Linked DNA regions of Homo sapiens. The protein of the gene in region 1 purifies or fractionates together with the protein of each later gene. This does not show direct contact. Each region holds a gene or a part of one and is shown in the gene's direction. Other genes may lie near its edges. The genes, in order: FLVCR1, PICALM, LNPEP, MANEA, ACSL4, PTPN2 and POMK.

What was found.
Region 2: the proteins of FLVCR1 (region 1) and PICALM fractionate together in Homo sapiens (co-fractionation; one large-scale study listed by BioGRID). This does not show direct contact.
Region 3: the proteins of FLVCR1 (region 1) and LNPEP purify together in Homo sapiens (affinity purification with mass spectrometry; one large-scale study listed by BioGRID and IntAct). This does not show direct contact.
Region 4: the proteins of FLVCR1 (region 1) and MANEA purify together in Homo sapiens (affinity purification with mass spectrometry; one large-scale study listed by BioGRID and IntAct). This does not show direct contact.
Region 5: the proteins of FLVCR1 (region 1) and ACSL4 purify together in Homo sapiens (affinity purification with mass spectrometry; one large-scale study listed by BioGRID and IntAct). This does not show direct contact.
Region 6: the proteins of FLVCR1 (region 1) and PTPN2 purify together in Homo sapiens (affinity purification with mass spectrometry; one large-scale study listed by BioGRID and IntAct). This does not show direct contact.
Region 7: the proteins of FLVCR1 (region 1) and POMK purify together in Homo sapiens (affinity purification with mass spectrometry; one large-scale study listed by BioGRID and IntAct). This does not show direct contact.

What each region holds. Positions count from the first base shown.
Region 1 is NC_000001.11:212,896,063-212,900,350, forward strand, and holds the end of FLVCR1 (choline/ethanolamine transporter FLVCR1), read left to right. Parts: 3' UTR 1-3,301; downstream 3,302-4,288.
Region 2 is NC_000011.10:85,999,127-86,003,325, reverse strand, and holds part of PICALM (phosphatidylinositol-binding clathrin assembly protein), read left to right. Parts: intron 1-2,167; coding exon 2,168-2,291; intron 2,292-2,546; coding exon 2,547-2,683; intron 2,684-4,199. UniProt on the Homo sapiens protein: Cytoplasmic adapter protein that plays a critical role in clathrin-mediated endocytosis which is important in processes such as internalization of cell receptors, synaptic transmission or removal of apoptotic cells.
Region 3 is NC_000005.10:96,977,453-96,981,651, forward strand, and holds part of LNPEP (leucyl-cystinyl aminopeptidase), read left to right. Parts: intron 1-1,685; coding exon 1,686-2,526; intron 2,527-4,199. UniProt on the Homo sapiens protein: Release of an N-terminal amino acid, cleaves before cysteine, leucine as well as other amino acids. Degrades peptide hormones such as oxytocin, vasopressin and angiotensin III, and plays a role in maintaining homeostasis during pregnancy.
Region 4 is NC_000006.12:95,601,104-95,605,302, forward strand, and holds part of MANEA (glycoprotein endo-alpha-1,2-mannosidase), read left to right. Parts: intron 1-3,723; coding exon 3,724-3,800; intron 3,801-4,199.
Region 5 is NC_000023.11:109,684,516-109,688,714, reverse strand, and holds part of ACSL4 (long-chain-fatty-acid--CoA ligase 4), read left to right. Parts: intron 1-3,270; exon of another isoform or gene 3,271-3,288; intron 3,289-4,199. UniProt on the Homo sapiens protein: Catalyzes the conversion of long-chain fatty acids to their active form acyl-CoA for both synthesis of cellular lipids, and degradation via beta-oxidation. Preferentially activates arachidonate and eicosapentaenoate as substrates.
Region 6 is NC_000018.10:12,877,596-12,881,794, reverse strand, and holds part of PTPN2 (tyrosine-protein phosphatase non-receptor type 2), read left to right. Parts: intron 1-4,199. UniProt on the Homo sapiens protein: Non-receptor type tyrosine-specific phosphatase that dephosphorylates receptor protein tyrosine kinases including INSR, EGFR, CSF1R, PDGFR.
Region 7 is NC_000008.11:43,117,376-43,121,284, forward strand, and holds part of POMK (protein O-mannose kinase), read left to right. Parts: intron 1-3,909. UniProt on the Homo sapiens protein: Protein O-mannose kinase that specifically mediates phosphorylation at the 6-position of an O-mannose of the trisaccharide (N-acetylgalactosamine (GalNAc)-beta-1,3-N-acetylglucosamine (GlcNAc)-beta-1,4-mannose) to generate phosphorylated O-mannosyl trisaccharide (N-acetylgalactosamine-beta-1,3-N-acetylglucosamine-beta-1,4-(phosphate-6-)mannose).

The sequences.
Region 1 (4,288 bases):
TGTATTTTTTCACTCCAACTTGAGATAGAGTAGTTTTGTACCCATTGCCTTTTTTTTCTTTTAAACTCTCTTTTTTTTTTTTTCCTGATGTGTAACTTTCTAGTAAGATAATTTCATCATGTATGTTACTGGCTATTTCATGATTTCATGTATCACATCGTATATTTTGCCTTGAAGATTCCTGAAATAAGGAAATCTATAATAACTTCAGATAGCCTACATGTCCCCATTTAGTGGAGACCTCTTGAATGCTATTTGAATTCTGCAGTATCATTTTTATGACCATTCTCCTTTGAGGAATACTATGCCCAGGTACATGCTCTATCAGTGTGCCGGGAGAGTGGATTCTTTTCTTCACTGCAGAGTCATCACACTGTTAGAATAGTCTGCTCTTTTACATGCTCAGGTAGGGAAAATAGGACCAAATATATTTCCACAGTGCCTACCACTGTGTCATGTTTACAGTGAGAGTTTAAATATTGTTGATGTCCTGACTCTGTGAGCTCATAGGGAGTATCTTCATAGTAATGACATTTGATCAGCCATAAAATTTACATTATGTTCATATGCACCCAAAAAAGCTAGTCAGGTAATGAATACCCTTGAAGTGAATAGCAATTTTGATTTAGGCAGTGTGTTAGGCCATCCTTGCATTGCTATAAAGAAATATTTAGGCTGGGCGTGGTGGCTCACGCCTGTAATCCCAGCACTTTGGGAGGCTGAAGCGTGTGGATCACCTGAGGTCAGGAGTTCAAGACCAGCCTGGCCAACATGGTAAAACCCCATCTCTACTAAAAAAAAAAAAAAAAAAAAAAAAAAAAAAAAAGGCCAGGCGCAGTGCTGTGGCTCATGCCTGTAATCTCAGCACTTTGGGAGGCCAAGGCAGGTGGATCACAAAGTCAGGAGTTCAAAACCAGCCTGGCCAAGATGGTGAAACCCCATCTCTACTAAAAATACAAAAATTAGCGCAGTGGCAGGCGCCTGTAATCCCAGCTACTCAGGAGGCTGAGGCAGGAGAATCGCTTGAATGCGAATGGCAGAGGTTGCAGTGAGCGAAAATCACACTACTGCACTCCAGCCTGGGAGATAAAGTGAGACTGTCTCAAATAAATAAATAAATAAATAAATAAATAAATAAATAAATAAATAAAACCTGAGGTTGAGCACGATGGCTCACACCTATAGTCCCAGCACTTTGGGAGGCTGAGGTGGGTGGATCATTTGAGGCCAGGAGTTGAAGACCAGTCTGGCCAACATGGCAAAACCCCATCTCTACTAAAAATACATACACACACACACACACACACAAATTAGCCGGGCATGGTGGCACACGCCTGTAGTCCCAGCTTCTTGGGAAGCTGAGGCATGAGAATTGCCTGAACCTGGAAGGCGGAGGCTACAGTGAGCTGAGATTGCGCCACTGCACTCCAGCCTGGGTGACAGAGCGAGACTCTGTTTCAGGAAAAAAAGAACAGAAATACCTGAGACTGGGTAATTTATAAATAAAAGAGGTTTAAGTGGCTCACAGTTCTGCAGGCTGTGTAAGCATGGCACCAGTGTCTGCTCGGCTTCTGGGGAGCCCTCAGGGAGCTTTACTCATGGTGAAAGGCTAAGTGGGAGCAGAGATGTCACATGGCGAAGCAGGAGCAAGAGAGCAGGGAGGTGCCACACACCTTCAAACAACCAGATTTTGTGAAAACTCACTCATTACTGCAAGGACAGCACCAAGCCATGAGGGATCCACCCGCAGGACCCAAACACCTTCTATTAGGGCCAACCTTCAACATTGGGGATTACATTTCAATGTGAGATTGGAGGGACAAGTATCCCAACTATATCAGGCAGAATATATGCATTGATATATATTGAAATTATAACATTCTCTATAATCAAGTGACTGTAAATTATGTCGAATCTGACCCTGGGGAATGTGTTATCTAAAGAATTTGACTAAGAATCAGGAACTCTGTGTCCATGTCCTGGATGTATTTCTGTATGTTCCTATAACTCTGGACAAATCATTAAACCTCTCTGGGCAGCGTTTTCCTCATCCATGAAATGAATGTGTTCAATTTGATCTCAAAGATCTTTCCAAAATATTAAATGCCATTAATCATGGAATAGACCAAATTATTGTATCACAGGAACTTGAATCCAGCCAGAGAAAAATTCCCTGGACAATTGGATAAACAAATGTGATTGCTACCTTATGGATACAACGGACTTTTACATTTCTTTTTAGCCTTTTTAGTCAGTTGAGGGTAACTCAAGCAGAGTATGTCCAATCATTAGCTTCCTTTGATATTTACATTACAGGTAAAAACGGCCAAAAATATATTTTAAGGTCTCTCCCCAAATGTTTTTATTTTTAAACTATCAATGTTGTTTAAAATAATCATGTACTTGTTGAGTTCCTGAGGTTTGGAACAAATTACACATAAAATTTAGAATACTTTATTTCTGAAAAGCATATACATATATGTTATGTTTATTTTTCCTTGTTGATTAGAAAGGTGATGGAATATGTGACAATGCAAAATGAATTGATAATTTTTCTGTATTTTGAGTGAAAGTTGTCTGTAATATGTCAAGCAAGAATGTTATAATTCTACAGTAATGTGTGACTTCATGACAGAGCTACATTCTGAGAAATTTGTCATTAGGTGATTTCATCATTGTGTGAACATCATGAAGTGTACTTACACAAACCTAGGTGGTAGAGCCTACTGCACACCTGGGCTAGATGGCAAAGTCTGTCGCTTCTGGGCTACAGACCTGTACAGCATGGTACTGTATTGAATACTGTAGGCAACTGTAACACAATGGTATCTGTGTAATCTAAACATAGAACAGATAATACATTGTGCTACAATGTAACAATGGCTGTGGCATCACTAGGTGATAGGAATTTTTCAGTTCCATTATAATCTTATAGGATCTCTGTCATATGTGGTCAATTGTTGATCGAAACATGACTGTATGTCGTATTTTCAGAAAATGGAATAGGTAATCATCACTTGTGTGAATTTTAATCAAATGACTTAGGAAAGAAACTGGATGTTTCAAAAGCTGTTGCATTTATTACAAATGTCACAAATACAGCTCTTGCCTTTTGAGAATGTTGGAGAGATGTCTTTAAAAAATATGTTTGTGTGTAAAAATGTGTCTGTATGCAATAGCTAGAAAAATGCCTGTGTCTTAAGTCATTACTCATGTTCTAATTTTTGTTCTTTGTACTATTTATCTGTATGCTTGTTCTTCAGTATTTCAGACTCAAAATAAATTTATTTTTTTATGTTAATTTTCTGTGACTTTTTGAAAAATTCTGATGCTTAGGTACACATGGGGAGTTTAAAGGGATTATAAAATTTCAGAATGGGCAAAGAGGGAATGAGGTAGTGCATGGAACATAAAATGAGGAAACAAAGTCTACCAGGGTCAGGGCTAAAATAGATACTAAAATATTTTATTCCTTTAAAAGTAACTTTAGAGAGTGATGTTAGCAAGATGGCAGAATAGGAGCTTTATATCATCATTCTTCCACAGAAGCATTGATTTTTACCAGTACTTTCAGATGGTAGTTCTTTTGTAGGAATCCAGAAGTCCTACGTGGAAGTTCCAGCACACCATTGGAGCAGAAATATCTGAGAATAAATGCATTAAAGAAAAGGAAGAAGAAGATTTTCACTTTATCTGCATCACTCTTTGAAGTTGGCACAGCTTAGTGGCAAGAGAGACTCCCCTCAGTCCACAATTTCTCCCATGGGAGAAGGTGATAGCATAGTGAGAGTGCTCAGCCCCTAGCTGTGTGGGATGCTGCCTAAGAACCCTACCTCTTTCTTGCTCCAATTAAAATATTGAGGTGACTGTCATAGCTAAGCGTTGGGAAAGGCTGGGAGCAGGGAAGAAAGGCTCTGAAACCTACTCAGCACTCCACAGACTCCATCAGGAAGCCTCACCAGCCACTGGGATACCTTGCATATGGACCTCCCACATGACCCATGGCCACCCCAAATTCTCTGTGCACCTCACCCCCATCTCCCTGAGGCTGGCTTCCCAAGCATGCCACATTGGATGGCAACTGCAAGCATCAAATATAGAGACAGATGGCTTGATTGTGGAATTGAAGCAAGGTACACAAACTTGAGTACTTCAGGACACCACCCCAGGGGAAACAAACAGGAAGCTGTCAGCACCTGGCCTGGCTTTGTGGGATTGAGATAAGGCATATAACTTTTAAGAATCCCCTGCTGCAAGTGGGAACAGGGGTTGTGGAGCAGGTGAATCC
Region 2 (4,199 bases), on another chromosome or scaffold:
TCTGAGGCAGTAGATGAAACCAGCTCAAGTTCCAAGCTGTTTAATTTCTCTATATCTTGATTTCATTTTCTATAAAATGGATTTAATCATAATATCAGCCTCATAGAATTAGTATTAGGATTAAATGGATTAATACATGCAAATTCTTGAAATTGTTTCTGACCTTCAATAAATGTCAGCATCTGTTAAGATAATGACAGTGACTGCATAGTTTAGAATTGTGTTTATGATGTCAAAATTTCTCCTAAAGATGCTAATGCATTGTTTTATGTGGTGCTTTGTAGTTATAAGATACATTTTTTTTTTCTTCCCCCGAGGCAGAGTCTCACTCTATTGCCCAGGCTGGAGTGCAGTGGCACAATCTCAACTCACTTGCAACTTCCACCTCCTGGGTTCAAGCGATTCTCCCACCTCAGCCTCCCAAGGGTGGGACTACAGATGCATGCCACCACGGCCGGCTAATTTTTGTATTTTTAGTAGAGACAGGGTTTCACCATGTTGAGCAGGCTGGTCTCGAACCCCTGAACTCAAGTGATCTGCACACCTCAGCCTCCCAAAGTGCTGGGATTACAGGCATGAACCACCGTGCCAGGCCTATAATTGCAAGATACTTTCGTATTAATTTGCTCAATCCTCACAATAGCCCTGTGAAGTATGTAGTAGCAATGCTGGGACTCAAACCTAGAATATCTGACATCAAATTGCATCATCTCTGCCTAATGCCAGTTCATGGGGTTGATTATTGATATTTTATATTTTAATCACTTTATTATGTTTTAAGCTAATTCCTCAGACTAAGACCATTTAACCTAGCAAATTGAAAGTAACAGAAATCATTTCATATCAGTCTGGTAACATGATTTTTGTATTGGGTTAAGAAATTACTTGAGTTATTCTCATGTTTTCTTATGAACCTTTTTTTAAAACAGCATGAAGAAAGAATTTGTATAGTGAGAACCTTCCTTTGGTTCTTTTTAGACTTTCTGGTTGTTTCAGAACTTTTGATCTTTCTTTTAGTAATAAAATTTAAATAATTTCCAAAGGGAAATGCCGTTATTGGATTTTAGTACTCATTTTTAATCCTAGATTTGTACTTTGAATTTTCTAGTAAGATTTTCGAAGTAGCAGTCAAAACAATAAGTCTCATTTATTTGAGAGAATAACGAAAAAAAGAGCCACGTAGTTCAGGTGCACCAATTTACCTGAAATGTTTATCATAAAATTTATTGGTTTTCTTGCATTTCTGTCACAACTATGTTATTCTTCCTTTGTCTTCTGAATTGTACCTTTTTATTGGCTTATTTATAATACTAATATTACATAAAATTTAAAAGGTAGTTTTTACCACTTTACGTGCTTAAGAGTAGAAACTAATGATGTTTGGTGTGTGGTAAAAGGAAAATTAATAAAGCTCAAGGTAGTTCTTCAGGTTAGAATTCTTTACCACTTGTTTTACTTAGCCTAGAGTTAACATTTGGAAAGTTAATGTTGAGGTTTATAGTGTGGATACGTTTTTGATAAAAGGGAAAGGAGGTGCCTTGCCAGTGAAAAATGATACATTGTACATGTATATTAAAAAGGAAATTCTGGTTTGGCAAAAGGGCAGCACATAGAAAGATGCCAAATGGCCTGATGACTAGATTGAAACCAGTCTTCTTTTGAAGGAACCTGAAGTCCTCTGGGGATGTTGTTATAGGTGAAACATACCTAGACTTACGTTACGTGTTACTGGTATGCATGTTTTGGTGTTCCTGTGGCACTGCCGAAACGTAGGCTGTAAATTAGCAGAGGGTTTTCCCTGTGATAAACTCAACACTTTTTCCCATCAGGGATTTTGTGGGATTATGTGGGCTCTTTCCCAATTGCACTGGTTTCCTCTCTTGGGGCTTGGAAGAGGCAATGTGCCCCACTCTGTTGTGAACCCTTTCCAAAGTCAAACACTTACTCTGAAAGCAGTGAGTGTATATTAAGTCAAGATTTTTCTAATTGCTTTAATCCTGTAGATCACTAGGTAGAATATTTCATCTGAAGTACTGGATTTGAATCCAGAAGTTAAGTTTATAATTATAGTGCCTATCCATGGCAAGGTTGCCAGACCATTTCATGACCTGGGTGTAATGTGAAGTGTTTAGCAAAAAGCCAAATTATCTCTGTTCAATTATCCTAGGGCAACTACACTTTCCAATGCAGTGTCTTCCCTGGCAAGCACTGGTCTATCTCTGACCAAAGTGGATGAAAGGGAAAAGCAGGCAGCATTAGAGGAAGAACAGGCACGTTTGAAAGCTTTAAAGGTAAGTTTGTGCATTCTCCTTATTTCGAAAAATGAGTACAGGTGTTCATTAGGTAAATGGGGCCTCTGCACAGACTTAGAGTCTTAAATGTATAGCTACCTAATGGGCTGAAACTCAGTCTAACTTTTCGTCCTGACATAGAATTAGGTAAAACAGAATATCTGCTATCAGAACAAATTAGAAAATGCTTTTTTCAGAGGCTGTACAAAGAAATCTGGTTTCTGGAATCCTTATGGTAGTTCCCTTTCTTAACAGGAACAGCGCCTAAAAGAACTTGCAAAGAAACCTCATACCTCTTTAACAACTGCAGCCTCTCCTGTATCCACCTCAGCAGGAGGGATAATGACTGCACCAGCCATTGACATATTTTCTACCCCTAGTTCTTCTAACAGGTAGGAGTAGAAGTTAAGGTTACCTTTGAATATGTAGGTTCAAAGACTTCTAATAGAAATTTTGCAGAACTTTTCAGGTTTACTTTTATTTATGCTTTTATAATCTATTCACACAAAGAGGTGGCGATAAATGGTGATATTGGTATAATACCTAAAGATAAAGTGATGAGTTTATATTTTACGTATTTACGAAATGGAAGATAGTTAAATCACTGATTTATACTAATAGGAATATAGCTGTTATCTCTGGGCCAACTTTTCATTGTGTAAAAATTATGATTAAACACATTTATGAGGCATCTAATGGTTCAAGACCCTTTATAGCTCTTTGACATATGGATATGATATATATTTCAAAATACCATTTCATTAGATATTAAACGTCTGTCATATCTGTTTCCTGGTTTTAAACTCTGTAATCTGGAACACAGTGACAGAGTTTAGTTGCCAGGTTTCTTGGTATTGAAGCCTACCAGACTAACTTTAATAATCTTGTTGTCTAATTTAAGCTACTTAACATGGAAATATAATATTGCCAGGTAAAGTAAAACAATTGGCATTTTCTGAACCTCAGAGTGGCTTAAAGTAGTTTTAAAAGTCAGATTCTGGTTTGAATCCTGGCTCTGTTAGTTCTTAACTTTTTTTGAGAAACCTTGTTTTCAGATGAGACTGTGGTTCTCAACTTTAACATCAGAAGCATTTGGAGAGTTTATTAAACTACAGATATCTGAGTCCCAATCCTAGAGTTTTGATTCAGTAGGTGGGGCCTGGGGCCCAAGAATTTTTGTTTTTAAGATGCTCCCAGGTGACTAGGTTTTAGCACAGTGCATTATTAGCACATGTTAAATGTTCCATAGAGAGTGGTGAGTTTTTTCCTTTCACTTTGTTGTTGCTGTTTATTAACTCACCCTTAAAAGCTCATCTGCCTGCCTACTGACTCCTAATAGCTGAGCCTAATAGCTCAGTGTAAGTTTTACTACGTGAACTGCTTGCTGTATGCATGCTCAGTTGCTACCTGCTCCCTGAAATCTTAGTAGGTGTTTGTTGAATTTAGTTCTTTTTTTTCTTTCAGCTTTATGATTTGTTTGCTCATGTATGCTACCTTCTTTAATCCCCAGTTAAGTAACATTGACCCCATTAAGGGGCAAGTTCTCAACATGGAGATCTTGAAAAGAAGTCTGTCCTAGGAGAAAGAAGTGAAAAGAATGTTCATTGTTCGAGGCTGAAACAAATTATTGGATAAAGAACTAATTTCACTATGTTTTATGTCACATACTAAAAATTTTCACCTTTTTAATAGTAATTAAGGGCAAATCTTACAGCCCATTTACAGAATTATTATTGTATATTCTATATGTTCCCCAAAGCACTAAATGCGTTTATATCTACTATCTACACAACTATTGTACATCTAAAAGACATGTCTTCAAAACTTTTTTATAAAAATACAGTTAGAAGGAATAAGTTCTAGTGTTTGATAGCACAGTAGAATTACTAATTAAAAACAATTGTATTA
Region 3 (4,199 bases), on another chromosome or scaffold:
GGTATTTAGTGCTGGCTGGGATCTGACCATGGAAGATGCTTATACCAGTGCCTCTCAAACTTAAGTGCACGTGAGCACCCGAGGATTTGTTAAAATTCGTATTCTAGGTGGAGACTTCAGAGGCTGCGTTTCTAACAAGCTGCAATGTGATGCAAATGCTGCAGGGTCACAGGCCACACTGAACAGCAAAACTGCAAATTTTATCCTAATATTTATCAATAATATGTTTTATGGATGAAGAGTTTCCACCATTACAGTGTTTGTTGAATAGCACAAAATACATAGCATTTATCTTAAGCTAGATATTCAGTAGTTTTTTGTAAGCTTTGCTCTCCTGATGGTGAAATAATACTCTTAGCAACTTCATTGCCAGGTATGAAATAAATAATTCAGGGCTCTCATCTTTTATTGAATTAGTTTGAGTAGAGGGATGCAATATAATGAAAAGAGCATAAACTTTTGAATCAAATTTTTAGACCTGTGCTTTAATATCAGTTTTATGACTAAATAGCTGTGTGACTTTATGAAGACGAATTAATCTATTTCTCTTTTTCTATTTTCTCATGTCTAAAATAGAATACTTGCCATTTTATAGGATTGTTGTAAGGGTTAGAAATGATAGGTATAAAGTATCTTCCCTTGTAGGGAAGATTAGTGGAGGTTTCAATTTGATAACTTTTGAGATCCCTTAAAAACTAAAATTGTATGAATTTTAAATAAAAAACATTGAACGATCTAATCCTAGGAAGTACTGATATATGGGGGATTATCGACCCTTCTACTTCTAGAGTCTTTTTTCTCAGTGATTTTGGCAAATCGGAAGGTGTGGTTTGTTGTAGTTTGTAAAAGCTCCCACTGAGATCCACTAACACTCATGGTGTGCAGTATGGTTGTTTCCCATGGAAATATGTTGTACTTCTGAAAGCCATGGAAGCATGAAAAACAGATTGAATTATAATTTTATCTGACTTTTATTGTCTTTTGATCTTTTTAAAAATCATTTCTTGCTTATGGAAATTTCCCATATAATTTGCTGCTTCCCATTTGCTGTGGGACAGAAACATTCCTCTTTCAGGGGAAAACAATAACCCATCCTGTTGCTTAGCCATACTCAATCTTAGAAATGGGCATACCAGCTTGTGGTGCTCCCTAGAGAGAATGAGACTCAGGGATGAGACCCACAAATACCTTGGAAGCAGATTTGAGGCCTGTTGGACAGAAATTCTGGGATTGCAGTGCCCAAACCCTAGAAGGGGAACCGTGGACTGTAGGTGGGCACATCCCTTTGATCCTACTGACTCCTCGCCTGGTGGGGACAGACATAGTCAGAGGAATGCCAAAACAGTGCCCTCTCAAGCCCAGGGCAGGGTCCCAGGTTGTGGGGCAGGAGTATATTAAGGAAATTAGTATATTATCTCAGCTAACTTTTTAAAAATATAATAGCCTGTTTATTTAGCTTTCTTGTTTCATAACTGTGGTATACTTTTATTTATGTTTTAGTTTTTAATGGATGACTCAATGGTATAAACATCTTATTTAATTCAGTAGCTCTGAGATGGAAATAAGTCTTAGTGACTTAAAAAAATTCTTAGTTTAAATGTGGTCTAGGTAGAAGACATGTTATTAATATTATGAGCTTTTTTTTTTCTAACTCTGTGCCTTGTTCTTATGTTTTGGTTTTTTAGATCGGCTTCAGCTCCCCAGGAATATGATTGAAAACAGCATGTTTGAGGAAGAACCAGATGTGGTGGATTTAGCCAAAGAGCCTTGTTTACATCCTCTAGAGCCTGATGAGGTGGAATATGAGCCCCGGGGTTCCCGACTGCTGGTGCGGGGTCTTGGTGAGCATGAGATGGAGGAGGATGAAGAGGATTATGAGTCATCAGCAAAGCTGCTGGGCATGTCCTTCATGAATAGAAGCTCAGGCCTTCGGAACAGTGCAACTGGTTACAGGCAGAGCCCAGATGGGGCTTGTTCAGTACCCTCTGCAAGGACCATGGTGGTCTGTGCTTTTGTCATCGTGGTTGCTGTTTCTGTAATCATGGTGATTTACTTACTGCCCAGATGTACCTTTACCAAAGAAGGCTGCCATAAAAAAAACCAGTCAATTGGACTAATTCAGCCATTTGCAACAAATGGGAAATTGTTTCCATGGGCACAGATCAGGCTTCCCACTGCCGTTGTGCCACTACGCTATGAACTCAGCCTACACCCGAACCTAACCTCGATGACATTCAGGGGTTCTGTGACAATTTCAGTTCAGGCTCTTCAGGTCACATGGAATATCATTCTTCATAGCACAGGTCATAATATTTCAAGAGTGACCTTTATGTCAGCAGTTTCAAGCCAAGAAAAACAAGCTGAGATCCTGGAATATGCATATCATGGACAGATCGCCATTGTTGCCCCCGAAGCCCTTCTAGCAGGGCACAATTATACGTTGAAGATAGAGTACTCGGCAAATATATCTAGTTCTTATTATGGGTTTTATGGCTTCTCCTACACAGATGAAAGTAATGAGAAAAAGTAGGTAGCCCTCTTAAATGATTCTGGTTTTACGCTCTGATAACTTCTGCAATATAGATCCCTTTGTCCACACCAGAGACACGAATTGTGATTTTTTTTTTTAATTTAGGAAGTTATATACAAAATAGTAGAATGGTGATTTAGAACAATATATTATCTCTCTTAGTCAACGCCTTGAGCATATATCATGGTGGGGTGGAGATAGGGGTGTGCTGGTGGAAAAGGATGGATAAAGATTATATCCAAAACTTGTTATCTTGAGTTTTTCACATTTTTAAGGTGAATCTAGTTTTCTGTCACCTCATGAAGTCTGTTGGGAAGCAGAGTAAAGAGGAGTTATTCTTTAAGACCTATTTTCCTAATGTGCAGAACTTTTAGGAGGTACTTAGTGAAATACAGAAAGAGGGCATGAAGAAGTGTGAAGTGTGGTGTGCTTACATATATCATTTTTAATATCCTTAATCTTTACTGGTTTATTATTTTTTAAAATGCCAGTCTATTTTGGATTTCTGGTGTAAATTTTTTTTAAGGTCTAGGAGAGACTTAATTTGGTTCAGAAAAAAAGGTGAGACAAAATATAAAATTATTCAGCTCCCTATTTGGACTATATATTTAGTACTTTAATCTTAGCATTCATAGCATGTAGTTTGAAATTCTGGGAAGATGGAGTTCACACAGTATGGAGGTTATTCTTAAGTAGCAGTGATATCAGTTGTCTTGTGCACAAAATCCTCACGACATCTGCTTTATGCAATTGGAACATTCTCTCATATTACTCTGTAAAACAATATGTGAATTACTGATGCTGACCATTTGGCTAATGTATGTTGACATATTAAGAGAAATAGTTAGAAATGAGTATTCTACATCTAAAGGAAACTTTTTGATCCTTCTTAAATGGAGAAAGAGACCAAGCAAGATCCATAATTCTATTCAGATAAATAATTTTTATTTTATTTTCCCTCTATGTAATACTTTTAAAATAAATGGCATACTGGCCCTGCATTTCAATTCTTGCGTGAGATCTGGGATTGAACACAAATGTATAATTGCAATGGGAACTTGAAAGTTCTTGCCTTTAGTTCTCCTTCTATAATGCCTATTATCCCCAGGAAATGTAAGCTATGTGTAAAAACAAGAAATACATCCCTTAATTACTTTATCTACCAGTATAAATATGTATTCTAATCATACCTCAGAGAAGAAAAATTTATAAAAGCTTCTCTAATAGAACTAAGCAAAATTAAAAGAGAGAAAGACAAAAAAATGGCTTTGAATTATAGTTTTCAGACATCTTGAAAGGTATAAATAATCTAAACATTTACCTGGAATCAAGATATACTATCACTTGGGGGATTCATTTTACTGATACTTTTATTTTGTTTTGAATAGCAGAGTTTCACGTACTAATTTATTTTAATAGGTTGTAAAATACTGTTTTATAATACTCTATTTCTTAATCTTAAAGAAACATATTTCATTTTTCTGACATTTTCCACAACTCAATCCAGCCCATGGCAAGAGTCAACAAGTGGCCGTACCAAAAATCACCTTACTCTGCTGTATTTATTCCTCCCATTAAATAGTTAACGAGTACAAGGATTCCAGGGTCAATATTCTGATGGGAAGAGATGGCTAGGGCACATGTCCTAAAAGTCTGTTTGCATACTAAG
Region 4 (4,199 bases), on another chromosome or scaffold:
ATTTAGTTTCTGTTCTTTTAAAGTATACTTGTCTGCATGTTTGCTAGAGCAAAGGCTGTTGCACTTATAACTGTCATTTAGTAGGCTGGTTTTGCAGAGAGTGTAAAAATCAGGGCTGGATTCCTTCCTCTATATCCTGCACCATTAAGAACACAGCAACGGAACAATTTTTTGAGTAAGACATGACAGAAATATTTGGTAGATTCCGTCATTGTTTAGCAAATAATCTGGTTTTCCTTCCCCTGCATGCAAAGAGTAAGTATACTTCCTGCCCTGTTGTTGTTGGGTTTGGCCTTATGGCTTGCTTTGGCTGATGAGATGTGAGAAGAGATAATGTATACTATGTGCTTGCATGATTATGCTCTTATTCTCTTTTATAAGAAAAGCATGCCCCTTTCTGCCTAGGACTCAGAATGACAGACACGTGGAGCTGATTTGAACCAGCCTGGAGCAGAACCATCATAAGCCAGTTCATAGATTTTATGTTCGAAAAGCAAATGTTTGTCTTTTAGAGCCACTGAGATTGTGGGGTTGTTACATGGCATTATCTAATCAAAACTTGACTGAATTAAATCATTCATCTAAGTAAAAGAAAATTAGGCAGATTCAGTGATTTTTTTTTTTTTTTTTTTTTTTTTTTTGCTTAGGATTATAGGGGAAAGAACCAACTCAGCCCTGGTGATCTTCTTTCATTTTAATAAATTTAGTATGTTATTTTAAAGTAGCATATTTTCTTTCTACTTTATGCAGAAATCACATTTCTTATACTAGGTTTATCAACATCCATTATTTCTTTGCATATGGCTCTAGAGTCATTTTATCTGCTTTTCAGGCTTATGCAGATTTCAACCATGTGAAACATGAATATAAGTATGTCCGTGATTCTTTTTTAAATGATTTTCACCTACATTTGAAACATGTTATATTAGTCATGGCCTCTCCTTTTTCTTTTTCCTTGTTAAATGAATATTGTGAATTCATGGCAGAAACTTTGGGAATCTTACCTAAATCCAGTATAAGTGACAGACTTAAGAGTTTAACTGTTGTTTGTTTTTGCATGCAAATCATTAGTCCATTTATTTATGCATGCATTCATTCATTTAGCACCTGCTACGTGTCAGATACAGTCCCAGATGCTGACAATATTAAGAAGAAGGATGAAGTATTATCTCTTTCCCTAAAATGCCTTGTAATCTACTGGAGGTCAGACACAAAGACAAGTAAATTTCAGGAAGAGAAAAGTATGAGGTATTATGGCACCACATAGGAGTAGGAAGACCTACCTCAATTTTGTTGTGGCAGGGGATAGGGGAGTGTGCAGGGGTGAAGGTAGAGAATAGAGTTGGAGAAGGAGAAAGTTATCAGATTTTCATTCAAAAAAGTTCATTTTATTAAAATTTATTTATTAAAGTTATTAAAATGCAGGGTAGGGAAGAGACAGGAAAGGTCAAAATTAAAAACATGAAATGAGGGAATGTTTATATTCTTATTCTTTAAAGATAAGAAAGACATTTCATTTTATGTATAGAATTCTGTTATTTTAAAATTTATTTTAACATTGATCTAATTGATTTTTCCAAATGGAATAGAGAGATGGAGACTAGATCACATCATTAATTAAAATTGCAAAGTAATGGCCGGGCGCGGTGGCTCACGCCTGTAATCCCAGCACTTTGGGAGGCCGAGGCGGGTGGATCATGAGGTCAGGAGATCGAGACCATCCTGGCTAACAAGGTGAAACCCCGTCTCTACTAAAAATACAAAAAATTAGCCGGGCGCGGTGGCGGGCGCCTGTAGTCCCAGCTACTCGGGAGGCTGAGGCAGGAGAATGGCGTGAACCCGGGAAGCGGAGCTTGCAGTGAGCCGAGATTGCGCCACTGCAGTCCGCAGTCCGGCCTGGGCGACAGAGCGAGACTCCGTCTCAAAAAAAAAAAAAAAAAAAAAAAAAATTGCAAAGTAATTTTATTATAATTAAGAAATTAGAAATACATGAGGGAAAATTTTAAATATTTTATACTTATCAATACTATATTTACTTTAAATATATTGATCTGCGCTTTACAAAAATAGCATGCTATTTGTTGTTTGCAGCTGTAAAAGCAAATTCATTTTGATATAGGATATTTCAAGTTGGATATTGCTTAAATATGGTGTCCTTTATGTATAAAATGGAAATTTAGAAAACACAGTGATGTAACTGAAGGAAGAATTACCCAAGGAAACATTATGTAATAGTATGAAAATACCTATACACTAGGCAATTTGCTTTCAACTGAATTTAAAAAGCAAATACCAAAGTTATTGAGAAATCTAGCTGCCCTAGCAGTTACTACCCTGGCAATACTAACAATATGCTGCAAAAATTAATTTGACCTTAGTTTTTTATGACAGAAACTTACTTTTATAATATTACTGTAATCTCATTTAAAGTAGAAAATTATATTTTTTTTAAATATTATTTAACTTTAAAATTAATTATGTGAAAACAAGTAGCACTGATTAATGTAAAATACATTTTGCTTTAATTGGGTAATTGAAAACAGAGGAGTTTCATATTGCAATAGAAGTCTCTAGTTCCATAAATACATCATAGAGCCTGAAACCTAAAATTAAAACAGTATCAATACATTTATTAGACTGCCATAAAGATTTTTAGTTGATGTTGGTAAGTCAGTAAAACTAGGAATAAAAGTGAAAATCCTCATTCTTTGTTTTATGAATCTGAAATAGATTGTCATCTAAGAGAAGTATCTTCTGTATTTTTTACCTTACTAGTTAGAAGTAGCATACAGAATGGTTTTACTAGCCATAATTAGTTTGTCTTGATTTATGTATAGCCAACCTTAAGTTAAAAAATTTTAGTCTGTGCACAGTATTTTAAAAATATTTGTAATTACTGCTCTCTATGTTTACATATATATATATAATGTATGTATGTGTGCGTATATATGTATGTAGGTGTGTGTGTGTGTGTGTGTGTGTGTGTGTGTGTATGGGATATCCAAACCATAAATACCTAGGCATCATGAAAAATGTCCTTTATAACACTAGTGGATATTATTTTTAAGCGATTTCATTATAAATTCTTTAATAGAAGTTAATGTATATTATTTTGTAAAATGCTGTTTTAATGATATGGAAGAATTTATATGTAAATAAATTTGCTAATGACTTCTATTTAAATTTAAGCTTAATGGTCACATGCCTGAAAAAAATCCAGATTTTTCTGGACCATATTTTTTTGGTCTTTTTCCTAAAAGAAACATATATCTGAATATAGAGTATTTCCTATATATATTATATGGGATACAAATATGTAAGAAACATTTTTATAAGGAGTAAACATAAAAAGAAGCATTGCACAGCAGTTAAGCATTTGAACTCGGAATTCAGATCATCAATATTACCTCCAACAAACTGGGTGACCTGGAACAACTTACTGAACCTTTCTTAAGGTTCTGTCTATCTTTGATTACCTCACTAAGAAAACAGAAATACCTTAGGGAGTTGTGAAGATTAACCAAGATAATAATATAAAATGTTTAGCATGTTATTTAGCAGTAAATTTTATTGGTAAAAATTCTCTGGTAGTTTCTGTGTTCAATAAATATTCATCTTTAATTAAGGTGATTAAATCAGTTACTTTATTAAATATATTAAGTATACTTCTAATTTTACATTATAGATAATTTATCCCCTAACTGATTTTATTGTTTGTTTTAGGTTACTTTTCACATAGAACCATATAGCAATCGAGATGATCAAAACATGTACAAAAATGTCAAGTATATTATAGACAAGTGAGTTTCTTCAATATTTATAAATATTGTTATATTATCCAGTGATAATTATTGTTTTAAGAATAGTACATTAAATTATATTTGAGATTTGAATGATTTATGATTATTCCATTTTTAATAAAATTAAATTGTTATTGTAATGAATGTCACCATCATTTCGAAGAACATTGCTGAAGTTTCTTATAATTCACTTTCTTTTTGGAAGATTGCTGTTTTTACTGTTTTACAGGTTTATAGGCTATTTATGATTTCTGTAGTTTTGATATTTTAAAATGACATTATTTTCTAAACCTTCAGAATATAGCTTTATCTTTTTAAAAAGAAGGTTCAGATTATTAAAAGTGAACTACTTCTTTTAACACAGTAGACCCAGAGCTGATATTTTCATTTATATCTAGC
Region 5 (4,199 bases), on another chromosome or scaffold:
TGCCAGTGGGTCAAGGAAGAAGAGAACTGAGCTTTAATTGACCTTTGGATCTAATAGCATGGAAGTCATTGGAGACCCTGATGAGGAGAACAAGTTTATAGAGTGGTAGGAGACATAAGCCTGATTGTAGTGGGTTCAAGAGAAAATAGGAGAGAACTGGGAGACAGAGAGCCATAGACACCTCTTTCAAGGAGTGCCAAAGAGATAGAAAATAAATGGGCTATAGCTGAAAAGAAGATGCAAAGGAGGGAATGTTTTTTAAGATGAAAGAAATAACAGCTGGTTATGATGCTGAAGGGAATAGTTCAGAAGAGCAGGGAAAATTAATGAGGAAGGACGAGAGGGAAGAATTGGTAGAGTAGCACTTCCGTGTCCTTATAAAGACAGGGTGTAATGCATAAATGAAGGGGTTGGCCTCAGCTTGGAGCATCAACAGTTCATCCATAGTCACAGGAGAGAAAACAGCATGTGGCCACAGATTTGATTAGGTGGGTAGATGTAGCAGTGAGAGTCTGTGGAAATTATCTTTGGATTGTTGCTGTTTTGTCTGCAAAATAGGTCAGCTGCTGAGAATAAGTCTGGATGAGGAATGTTGGTGGTCTGAAGAGAGTAAAGTATGAAATCCAGAGGAGTGGGCCAGTGAGTGGACTAGTGCGGTGTGGTCTCTCTGCATCAGGGAGAGTCCATTTGAGGTAGCAATCACAAGTTTAAAGTGAGACACTCAACACAGTCATGTGTTTCTCACAGCAAATTCAGCTGCATAGGTACAGGTACAGATTAGGTGGAGAATTGGATAGGATAGAACCAGGCTGTGGTTGAGATGATTAAGTACAACCAAGTGAGACAACCAAGAGGGACTGAGTATGATTGCCTATGGAATTTAAGAGGAAGAAGACAAAGGTTTCTCACAAAAGCACTATAAAGTAGGTAATATAAGCAGTATTCCTGTTTTACAGATGAAGCCACTAATATAGAGCTTTCTTTTTTAAATCATACTTTAAATTCTGGGATACATGTGCAGAACGTGCAGGTTTGTTACATAGGTATACACGTGCCATGGTGGTTTGCTGCACCCATCAACCCATCATCTACGTTAGGTATTTCTCCTAATGCTATCCCTCCCCTAGCCCTCCATCCCCTGACAGGCCCCTGTGTGTGATGTAACCCTCCCTGTGTCCATGTTTTCTCATTGTTCAACTTCCACTTGTGAGTAAGAACATGCAGTGTTAAGTTTTCTGTTCCTGTGTTAGTTTGCTGAGAATGATGGTTTCCAGCTTCATCCATCTCCATGCAAAGGACATGAACTCATTGTTTTTTATGGCTGCATAGAACCACATTTTAAACCCAGATCTGTTAGCCTAGAAAATTTTTGTTGTTTCTCTTATGAGACATTATATTTTGCCTAATGATGGGTACGATGCTCAGCATCATACCCTTACCACCAACTCTTCTTTTTTTGAAGTGAAATGAAATGTTTAAATCTTTTTTGAAATGAATTTATCAATAGACTGAGTATAACCCCTGACAAGGAAGTATTATAGTTTAAGATGATAGGCAAAACTGGGCAGAGGCTGGCTAGTGTACTTGAAAGAGCACTGGGTGCTCGATTTGTGCTCTGCCATTCATTTGCTTCTCTGTAAGATGAGGGCTCAGACAATATCAGTGGTTCAAATATTCAGCTGAACTGGAAGTTCCAAGGAGTCCCTTCAGGGGCTGTCATAGCCTCCTCTACCAGAGCAGCTATGCTTTTTGCTTTCATCTACGCTTGTGTTTTTATATCTATATAAGATTTTATTCAAATGGATGACCCATGACCCCCTCACTACCTGCAGAAAGAATTTGAAAACCTCTAGACTAAATGATCTCTCTGGTTTCTTCTCACCTGAATGTTCTTTGAGCCTTGCCTACTGTGTGTGTGTGTGTGTGTGTGTGTGTGTGCATGCGTGTGTGTGTGTCTGTACTAAGCACTATGAGGATTACCTAGAAAGCATTTCTCTTTCTCTAAGACTTAAGGCAAATATGTATAAAAGATTAAATTTATGTAACATCAATAACTAAAAAACATACAATGCATTTTAAATCCAACTAAAGTACAGGCTCTTCAAAAGCTATTTTCTGTTTCTTTATATATTTTCAGCCTTAAGCCTGAAGATTTCTCAATTGAGGGTAAGGTGGTACTCACCCCTTAGGGGCATTTTATAAATCTGAAGACATGCTTTTATGTCTGCTAATATTGTCTCTGAGAATGTATGTATTGAAACAAGTATTTTGTTAAATTTTAAATTAGTTTCTTTATGGTACTCTTTTATATTACCAGTAAGAAATCATTTTTTAAAATGGTGTGTTGGTAGATTATGACTATCCTTTGATGTTGATGAAGAGGTATCACAAAATATTTGTCATAAGAAAGAGGTACTGGGTTTGATATGGTTGAGAACTACTGGTCCGTGTTCTATACTGTGGTACCCAGAAGTTTGGAAGTGATGGTAGTATAATCATGTATCAGATTGAGTGGTAGATATTGCTAATGATGTGTGAAATTAGAAAAAGTAAAGATTGTTCTGGACTTGGGTAGCCATGAAATCTTCAGTGGGAGGAGAGGATTGTTAGAGGGGATCTTACATTCAGCATTATGATAAACCCTTGACATGACATACCTTATCTTGAAGAAATGAATGACCAGACTTGTCCGAGAGACTAAGAAGGTACTTTCCAAGTAGGGTAAGTCATAGAATTTAAAGCTGGAAAGGCCCTAAGAATCACCTAGGCCAGACATTTTTAGTTCAGGGTTGTTGCCCTTTGAAGTTCATGGATGGATTTCAAGGAACTTGTGAATCACTTGACATTGTGTGTATCATTTAGCATGTCTTTCTGAGGGGAATTGGGTTCCTCGTTCTCATTCTCAAAAAGGCCCATCATCTCTAAGAGGTTAAGGCCTGCTGATCTAGTGTGGTCCCAGACTGAGGTAGATGGTTTGCTCAAGGTTACACAGCCAGTTAGGGGCAGAGATGAGGATTGACACCCAGTGACTTCCAGTTTCTTTCTCATTTCACTGTACTCAACTAAATTACATGAACAAAGGCACAGGCAGGATTAAGCTACCATTTTATATTAGATGGTATAAAAACAATCAACTAGCCTGGGGTCAATTGAATTAAGTCTGTCAGTCTGTTTCTACAAAAGTTGCAGAAGGATGGGCTTCAGTTTGTCTCTTCAAAGTGAACTAATATTTTGATTTTTCTGGTTGAAATATGCTACAACTCACCGAAGTAGCTTTCTCAGTTGAAGGTAAGCTCCTTAAAAAATGTTCCTATTCTTGGGCCGGGTGTGGTGGCCCCCGCCTGTAATCCCAGCACTTTGGGAGGCCATTGAGGGCAGATAGCTTGAGTCCAGGATTTTGAGAACAGCCTGAGCAACAATGGCAAAACCCCGTCTCTACAAAAAATGGAAAAAAACTAGCCAGGCATGGTGATGCACATCTGTGTTCCCAGCTACTCGGGAGGCTGAGGTGGGAGGATCTTTTGAGTCCGGGAGGCAGAGGTTGCAGTGAGCTGAGATCATGCCACTGCACTCTGGCCCGTGTGACAAAGTGAGACCTTGTCTCAAAAAAAAAAAAAAAAAAAAAAGAAAGAAAAGAAATATTACTATTCTTGAGCCTGTTTCTGCGGTTTCTTTCCAATGGCACTGTTTTTCTAACCTGCAGCAGCCCCCAGCTTTCCACATAATCCAATCAAAATTACTTTGCCTGATTTGTTAGATTTTGTAACTACCGTAGCGTATTTAGTCAAGCGTATTTAGCGTATTTAGTGTATGCTGTGCCCCAGTCAGACTAGTGTCCTTGCTATTGGTACTTCCTATTCTCCCAAAGTCCTTTCATTCCCACCTTCGTATCTTTTTTCATATGGTCCCTGAGCCTGGAATACCTTCCATTCCTCTTTCATTTCTAGATGCCCAACATAAGGTCCAGCTTAAATCTAATCTCCACAAAGCCTCTCCTAGTTACTCTTGGCCATTTTGCACTTCCTCTGAACTCCTTTTGCATTTATTGCTTATACTACTGCCTACACTGCACATGGTAGTTATGTATTAGTTATGTATTACCACAAGGCTTTTCAGTGGAAATGCTTTAGTGGTCACCTTGGGAGTTGGGATTCCGGGAATTCTGGGGCAGGACTCTGGACATCCCCAAACCCTGTTTT
Region 6 (4,199 bases), on another chromosome or scaffold:
CTTGTGGAGTTGAGTTACCTAGGAGTCCTGTATTTCCCAAAAAGGGGTACACATGGGAGTTCTGGTGAAGCTTCTCGAGGGAGGGAGGACCTCACCTAAGTCTTGAAAGACATTGGCCAGGGGAAGAGGACAAGGGAGGTGAAGAGAATTACTGTTCCAGCAAGGAGGGAGTGCACAAAGGCACTGAGGGAATGCTGAGAGAACCACCCACAGTTTAGCCTGGAGACTGGTGTGAAGTTGAGATGCTGGAGAGTAAGGCAGAGCCTAGATCAGACTAAGGAATTTGAGCTGTTTAATAGGAACTCATTGTGGAATTGTAAGTCTGGAAATACCATGATCATATTTGCTTCTTTTTTTTTTGACAGAGTCCCGCTCTGTCGCCCAGGCTGGAGTGCAGTGGTGCGACGTCAGCTCACTGCAACCTCTGCCTCCTGGGTTCAAGTGATTCACTTACCTCAGCCTCCTGCGTAGTTGAAATTACAGGCACACACCACCATGCCCGGTTGATTTTTTTGTACTTTTAGTAGAGACAGGGTTTCGACATGTTGGCCAGGCTGGTCTCGAACTCCTGACCTCAGGTGATCCGCCTGCCTCGGCCTCTCAAAGTGCTGGGATTACAGGCATGAGCCACTGCTCTGGGCTGATCATATTTACTTGTTAGCAAGATCGTTCTGACTGCTAGCAGACTGGATGAGGAAAGTGTAGGCACGCAGCACAGGGCAGTAGTCGGTTGGAGTAAACCTGAAGAGACATGATGAGCTTCTGTTAGGCAGTGGCAGGAGGGATGGAGGGGAGATACAGATTTGAAATGAAATGGTAAAGGGGTATACGTTATGTACAAGTTTGGTTTTGAAACTTTAATTCTGTTTGAGGTACCTGCGAGACACTGAAATGAAGCTAGTTGAATGTATAAATTTGGAGTTCGGGAGAGAGGGTCTGAGTAAATGTGATTTTGGAAATCATGAACACATGGGTGATATTTGAGGTCTTAGACATTGATGAGATCATCTAGGGAAGATACAGAGCGTTTGGAAATATCAAAGGCCAAGGACAGAATCTTGACAGACAACATTTAAAAGGATGGGTGGAGAAAGAGGAACTTGCAAAAAAGACTGGTGAGGAACAACCACAGAAGTGGGGAGGAAAGCAGTGGAGGGAGTTGAGGGTGAGCAGGGCCACCTGACAGGTAAGGGCCAGCCTGAGAGGGCCATGACATTGAGCAGCTAGATTAACAGATACCTTAAAGGGAGTTGTGTCAGCGGACTACACAAGACAGATACCTGGAGTTCAGGAGAGAAGGTAGGAGGAAATGCAAACTACCAAGTGTACACTGCTCTTTTTAGAAGCCCAACTTGAAGAAGTGGGGAGAGGTAGCTAAAATGAAGCAAGATTGTGTGACTTCTCACTTAAACCCTTGAACGGCTTTCCGTTGCTCACAGTGTAAATTCAGCCCCTCCTCCGGCTCACAAGACCTCATGGCCTGTGTCTCTTGCTTGATTTCCCCTATCACTTTCCTCCCTCTTTTCCACTGTGTTGTATTCTTGGAAGTGTGTGTGTCCATTCTCCCCTTAGGGCGTTTGTAAATGTTGTTCTCTTTGCCTTGGCACAACTTTCCCCCCTTCTCTTTCCTTTCTTGCTTAAACTGCCTCCTACTCATCCCTGAAGTCTCACTTCCTTGGCAGGCCTTCTTGACCTGCCCATGCTGGGTATGAGCCCCTGTTGCGTACTTCTTTAGCATCCCAAGACTTCCCCTTTCATAGCGGGAATTGGATGTCATACAGCAGCAAATGATTTCGGGAACACAATTTGCATTAAGCAAACCACTATCTTGAAAGTAACACAGCTTGAGTAGGAAAAAAGTGTTTAAGGTGGCTTTCTGCTTTGTTTAGCACAGCAGTGGGTGATGTTTCTGATAATGTTTTTGAAGAGTTGTGCTTTTTTTGGTAATGCTCATGGAGCTGGGAAAAGAAAGGCTTTGCTCTTGAGCAAAAACTGAGTACAACTAAAAGCTGGACTTGCTTAGTGGTAGGAGAACTTGATACCTTGTTGAAATTCTAGCGGGAAAAATGAATTTAGTATTTTGAGTCTGGAACTCTGGTCCCTTATTCCTTTTTGCTCCTTTTGAAAAGTGTCTTTTATTTCATGAGTTTGATAATAGGAGGTTTCTTAGAAATGAATTATTGGGTTGGAGCAGAACAGACTCTGTTAATCTGAGTTTATATTTTTTATTACTTCTTCAGAGTTTCATGAAGGCACTGCCAGTGCTTTGCACAGTATCAGGTGCTTAGTAAGCACTTGAAAATATGTGCTGAATGAATGACTTTTTACGAGGAAAGGGCAACTTGATATATTTATGTGATTGCAGGGATGAACCTAAAGAGAGAGGTGGAGGTTGAAATAGAAGGGATGATTGTTGGAGCCAGAAATCTTAGAAAGCAAGAGTCAATGGGACCAAGAGCACACAGGTGGAAGAATTGATCGTGAAAGAGTGCTGGCCAGGCGGTGGCTCATCCCTGTAATCCCAGCGCTTTGGGAGGCTGAGGTGGGAGGATCACTTGAGGTCAGGAGGTTAGGGCTGCAGTGAGCCATAATTGTGCCACTGCACTACAGACTAGGTGACAGAGTGAGATCCTGTCTCTAAAACAAGAACAGCAAAACAAAGGGTGCAGTTGGAAAAGTTTAATTTGGTCTGATTGTGTGAGGTTAATTCTGACTTTTTGAGTAATGTTCATGATCCCTTTTTGGCTTTTCCTTTTGTCACTGCTGATTGCTGTCTTCATCAGGCTGAGCTTTGAGAAAGGCAGAGAGAAGGAATGGAGTCTGTGTGCCTACTGAGGAAAAGACTAAAACTGGGGAATCGCAAAAGCTATGTTATGGGTTGTTTCTAAGAAGTGATGGCTCAGAAGGAATTTGGCTTATTTATTTTTAAATTCCTTTCTTTTTTAAAGAGTTCTCACTCTGTTGCCCAGTCTGGAGTACAAGTGCAGTGGTGCAATCATAGCTCACTGCAACCTTAAACTCCTGGGCTCAGGTGAGCCTCTCACCTCAGCCTCTTGGAAATTGGTTGATTAATTAGGGTTTATAAACAATGGAACTCCTGACTGACTTCATTTTTCTTTTTTTGAAACCAAGTCTTGCTCTGTCCCCCAGGCTGGAGTGCAGTAGTGTGATCTCAGCTCACTGCAACCTCTGCTCCCCCCAGGTTCAAGCAGTTCTACTGCCTCAGCCTCCCGAGTAGCTGGGATTACAGGTGCCCACCAGCACGCCCAGCTAATTTTTGTATTTTTAGTAGAAACGGGGTTTCACCATGTTTGTCAGGCTGGTCTTGAACTCCTGACCTCAGGTGATCCACCTGCCTCGGCCTCCCAAAGTGCTGCTGGGATTACAGGTGTGAGCCACCACGCCCAGCCACATTTTTCTTTTTCTTTCTTTTTTTCCTTTTTCTTTCTTTTTTTTTCTTTTTCTTTCTTTTCTTTTTGAGACTGGGTCTCACTTTGTCACCCAGTCTGGAGTGCAGTGGCGTGATCTCAGCTCACTGCAGTCTCGACCTCTTGGGCTTTAGACATCCTCCTGCCTCAGTCCCCCACGTAGCTGGGCCTGGCTAATTTTTTTGTATTTTTTGTAGAGACAGGGTTTAACTATTTTGCCCAGGCTGGTCTTCAACTCCTGAGTTCAAGCAATCTGTCCACCTCAGCCTTCCAAAGGCTTAGGATTACAAGCATGAGCCACTGTGCCTGGCCATTTTTCTTTTTTCTTTTTCTTTTTTTGAGACAGTCTTGCTCTGTTGCCCAGGCTGGAGTGCAGTGGCGTCATCTCGGCTCGCTGCAAGCTCTGCCTCCCAGGTTCACGCCATTCTCCTGCCTCAGCCTTCTGAGTAGCTGGGACTACAGGCGCCCGCCAACACTACAGGCGCCCGCCACCACGCCAGGCTAATTTTTTGTATTTTTAGTAGAGACGGGGTTTGACCGTGTTAGCCAGGATGGTCTTGATCTCCTGACTTTGTGATCCACCTGCCTCGGCCTCCCAAAGTGCTGGGATTATAGGCATGAGCCACTGCGCCTGGCCGCCATTTTTCTTTATTAGAAATTTGTAGTTCAAATATTGCTAGAGAACAATTTTTACCATTTGTGAGTCAGCTAATTTTTAGAAGTCAGATATCAAGTGCACACTGTTCTTCTCATACTTACAGCGGGGCAGCC
Region 7 (3,909 bases), on another chromosome or scaffold:
AAGTGGAAGTGGATCCATCATCCATCGCAAACGTCTTTATCCTTGGTTTTTTCACAGTGAGTGGGCTGAGGAGGAGGAGGAAAGGAAGAGGTTGGTCTTGGTATCCAAGGGGTGGTAAAGGCAGAAGAAAATCTGTGTGTAAGTGGAACTGCGCAGTTCAAACCCGTGTTGTTCAAGGGTCAAGTATATATAAAGAGCTCCCAGTAATTAATAAGCACAAGGCAGACAACCCTATAGAAAATTGGATAAAGGACAGTGAACAGACTTTTGACAGCAGAAATACAGAAATGCCTAAAAAGATGACAAATGCCTAGCCTTATTAGTAATCAGGGAAATACAAATTAGAAGAGTAAGGTATTTTCATCCATTGATTGGCACAAATTACAAACAGTGGTAATAATCTGGTGTGACTAAGGGTGTATTCCTAAGATTCTATCATGCGCTGCTGGTGAAAGTGCATGCTAGCACAGACTTTGGAGGGTAATGATGGCAATAGATATTTGGTAAATTCTGTCTGCCTACCTAGCTTATAAAATATTTGTGCATGTACATAGACATGTAAATATAAGGCTATACACTGTAGCATTGTCATTAGAAAAGGGACTAACTTAAATGTCCAGGTCTTTAGAAATAGATCATATAAGATCTTATTAAAGGTCTTTACAAAATTATAGCTACATAATAATCTTAAGAAAGAATCCAGTCTATTTTGACAGCATCAATTCCAAATTCCTGGTATTTTTATTATATTATACTTTAATTTTAAAGAAAAAAGGTAGTAGTATCTGTAAAAGCTTACTGGAAATACACAAGTGTAGGTATTATGCCCACACTATGAAACATTACTCAGCTTTAAAAAGAATGGCCTAGATCTACATGTATATATGGAAAGGATTTCTGAGGCTCAGTTAAATGAAAAAAGAGCTGCAATGTATGTATGTTATAACGCCATTAGTATAACAGCAAACCCAAATGCTGTTTTACAAGTGTACATTAATAAATAAAGGCATAGAAAAACTTCTGGGAGGATGACAGCCAGTTACCAGGTTTCCTTTGGGTCGGGAAGTAAAACTGGGGGCAGGGAGACATCCTGCCTATCCTCTGTATTTGAGTTTTTACCAAGAAAAGTGTTCACGATTAATTTTATAATAAAAAAGTAAAGTATTTTAACTGTTCTTTCCAAATAAAAGTCTTTTAGAAAATGATTAAAAGCAACTAAATTAGAGGTTGTGAGAAATGATTCTTAAACAGTCCATGACTAGCAAATTTTTTATATTGGAGGATTCAAATATTTGTGTGTGATCTCAAAGACTAATAGTATTTCATAATAATATTTAATAATCTTCATTTATCTGAAACAAAAATGAATGAGACACAAATGAGGGATCAGGAGCCCTGGGGCCTGTGGCTGAGCCTCCCCAACTTACTGTTTTTTTTGTTGTTGTTGTTACGGAGTCTCGCTCTGTTGCCCAGGCTGGAGTGCAGTGGCCTGATCTCGGCTAACTGCAAGCTCCGCCTCCACGGTTCATGCCATTCTGCCATTCTCCTGCCTCAGCCTCCTGAGTAGCTGGGACTACAGGCACCTGCCACCATGCCCGGCTAATTTTTTGTATTTTTAGTAGAGATGGGATTTCACCATGTTAGCCAGGATGGTCTTGATCTCCTGACCTCGTGATCCACCCGCCTCGGCCTCTTGAAGTGCTGGGATTACAGGCATGAGCCACTGCGGCCGGCCCCCCACTTATTGTTGAATGTGTAGCAGCAGCTTCCCAAAAGCCAGCATCGTTTTTAGGTGAAAAATGGGCCTAGAAAACCAAAGCCATTGCCAGTTCTGGTGGTGACCATGCAGAGGTGGGCGTAAGGAAGCCATGGATCTGAACAAAACCTCAGTTGTTCGTATTAGAGCCAATTATCAGATTCAGTGGGATGCAAATCTATGGAGAGCGTGTGTTCAATATGAAAATTTAAAAAAATCTTGAACTTTTAGAATGTGGTCTTATCTAGTCCTTAAAAATTAGGAAATTTTTAGTGCATGTAGCAGCCAGAGTGAAAAACAGCTTTTTTTTTTTTTTTTTTTTTTTTGAGACGAAGTCTCTAACCAGGCTGGTGTGCAGTGGTGTGATCTTGGCTCACTTCAGCCTCTGCCTCCTGGGTTCAAGCAATTCTCCTGCCTCAGCCTCCTGAGTAGCTGGGACTGCAGGCGCGCGCCACCACGCCCAGCTAATTATTTTGTATTTTTAGTAGAGATGGGGTTTCACCATGTTGCCAGGCTGGTCTCGATCTCCTGACCTTGTGATCCTCTTGCCTCGGCTCCCAAAGTGCTGGGATTACAGGCGTGAGCCACCGCGTCCGGCCCAAAAACAGCTTTTTAATAGAAGTTATTATCCTTAGTGAAATTTCTCAAATATGAGGATTAGAGAGTCTTGAAAGAGTTTTCATTTGAATGTTATGAGCCAATCAAAGTTATCTGGGTTTTTCCATAATGAACCTCCCTTCTTAGATCCAGAAAAGATCTTCATGGTCCTTGGGTCTAACTCCATTTTATATAATATTTCTTTTTCTTTTTTTTTTTTTAAATTCCCAATGTTAGTTTTTCTGAAATTTTATATATTTTTGAGTTAAAAAATTTAAGTTGTAAAAGTAATATATGTTCATCTTGGAAAATACCAAAAGATATGAAGGAAAAAAAAATCACCCAGAATCTTACCACATAAAGACAACTAAGGCATTAGCATATTTCCTTTGATTTCCATGTGCTGTAATTTAAATTTGTCTCGTTTTATGCAGTTGGAACAATATTATACAAATGGTTTTGTATACTTCTCATTTGTAACATTGCTTTTTTTTTTTTTGAGATGGAGTTTCACTCTTGTTCACCCAGGCTGGAGTGCAATGGTGTGATCTTGGCTCTCTGCAACCTCCACCTCCTGGGGTTCAAGCTACTCTTCTGCCTCAGCCTCCTGAGTAGCTGGGATTACAGGCATGCACCACCATGCCCGGCTAATTTTGTATTTTTAGTAGAGGTTTTAGGTTTTAGGTTTCGTCATGTTGGCTAGGCTGGTCTCCAACTCCTGACCTCAGGTGATCTGCCTGCCTTGGCTTCCAAAAGTGCTGGGATTATAGGTATGAGCCACCGCACCCAGCCGTACCATTACTTTTATCTGTTATAACTGTATAAATATATACATTTTGGTGACCGCATGATATATATATATATTGAATGATCCTCCCACCTCAGCCTCCCCTGAGTAGCTGGGGGTACATGTACGCTCCATTACACCCTGCTTGTTTCTTAATTTCTTTCTTTTTTTTTTTTTTTGAGACAGAGTTTCACTCTTGTTGCCCAGGCTGGAGCACAGTGGCGTGATCTTGGCTTACGGCAACCTCTGCCTCCCGGGTTCAAGTGATTCTCCTGCCTCAGCCTCCCAGGTAGCTGGGATTACAGGCATGCACCACCACGCCTGGCTAATTTTGTATTTTTAGTAGAGTCAGGGTTTCTCCATGTTGGTCAGGCTGGTCTTGAATTCCTGACCTCAGGTGATCCACCCGCCTTGGCCTCCCAAAGTGTTGGAATTACAGGTGTGAGCCACCACGCCTGGCCCACCCTGCTAGTTTCTAAAAAATGTTTTGTAGAGATGGGTTCTCACTATGTTGATCATGCTGCTCCCATCTTTTGATAAGTTTCAGTGTATGCTTTTATAAATAATGTCAGATTTTTATTCCTGGAGCTTCTTACCTATTTCCGATTATTGCCTTAGATTTAGATGTTAGAGTCTCTTGATAAATAATGCAAAAAACTGCTTTGGAAACCATAACCTTTATTTGAACAATGACATGGCACACTGCTTGCAGAATGAGCCTGGGGCAGGAATCTCCTGAGTCCTGAGCCTGCTTTCTCTTTTGTAATCT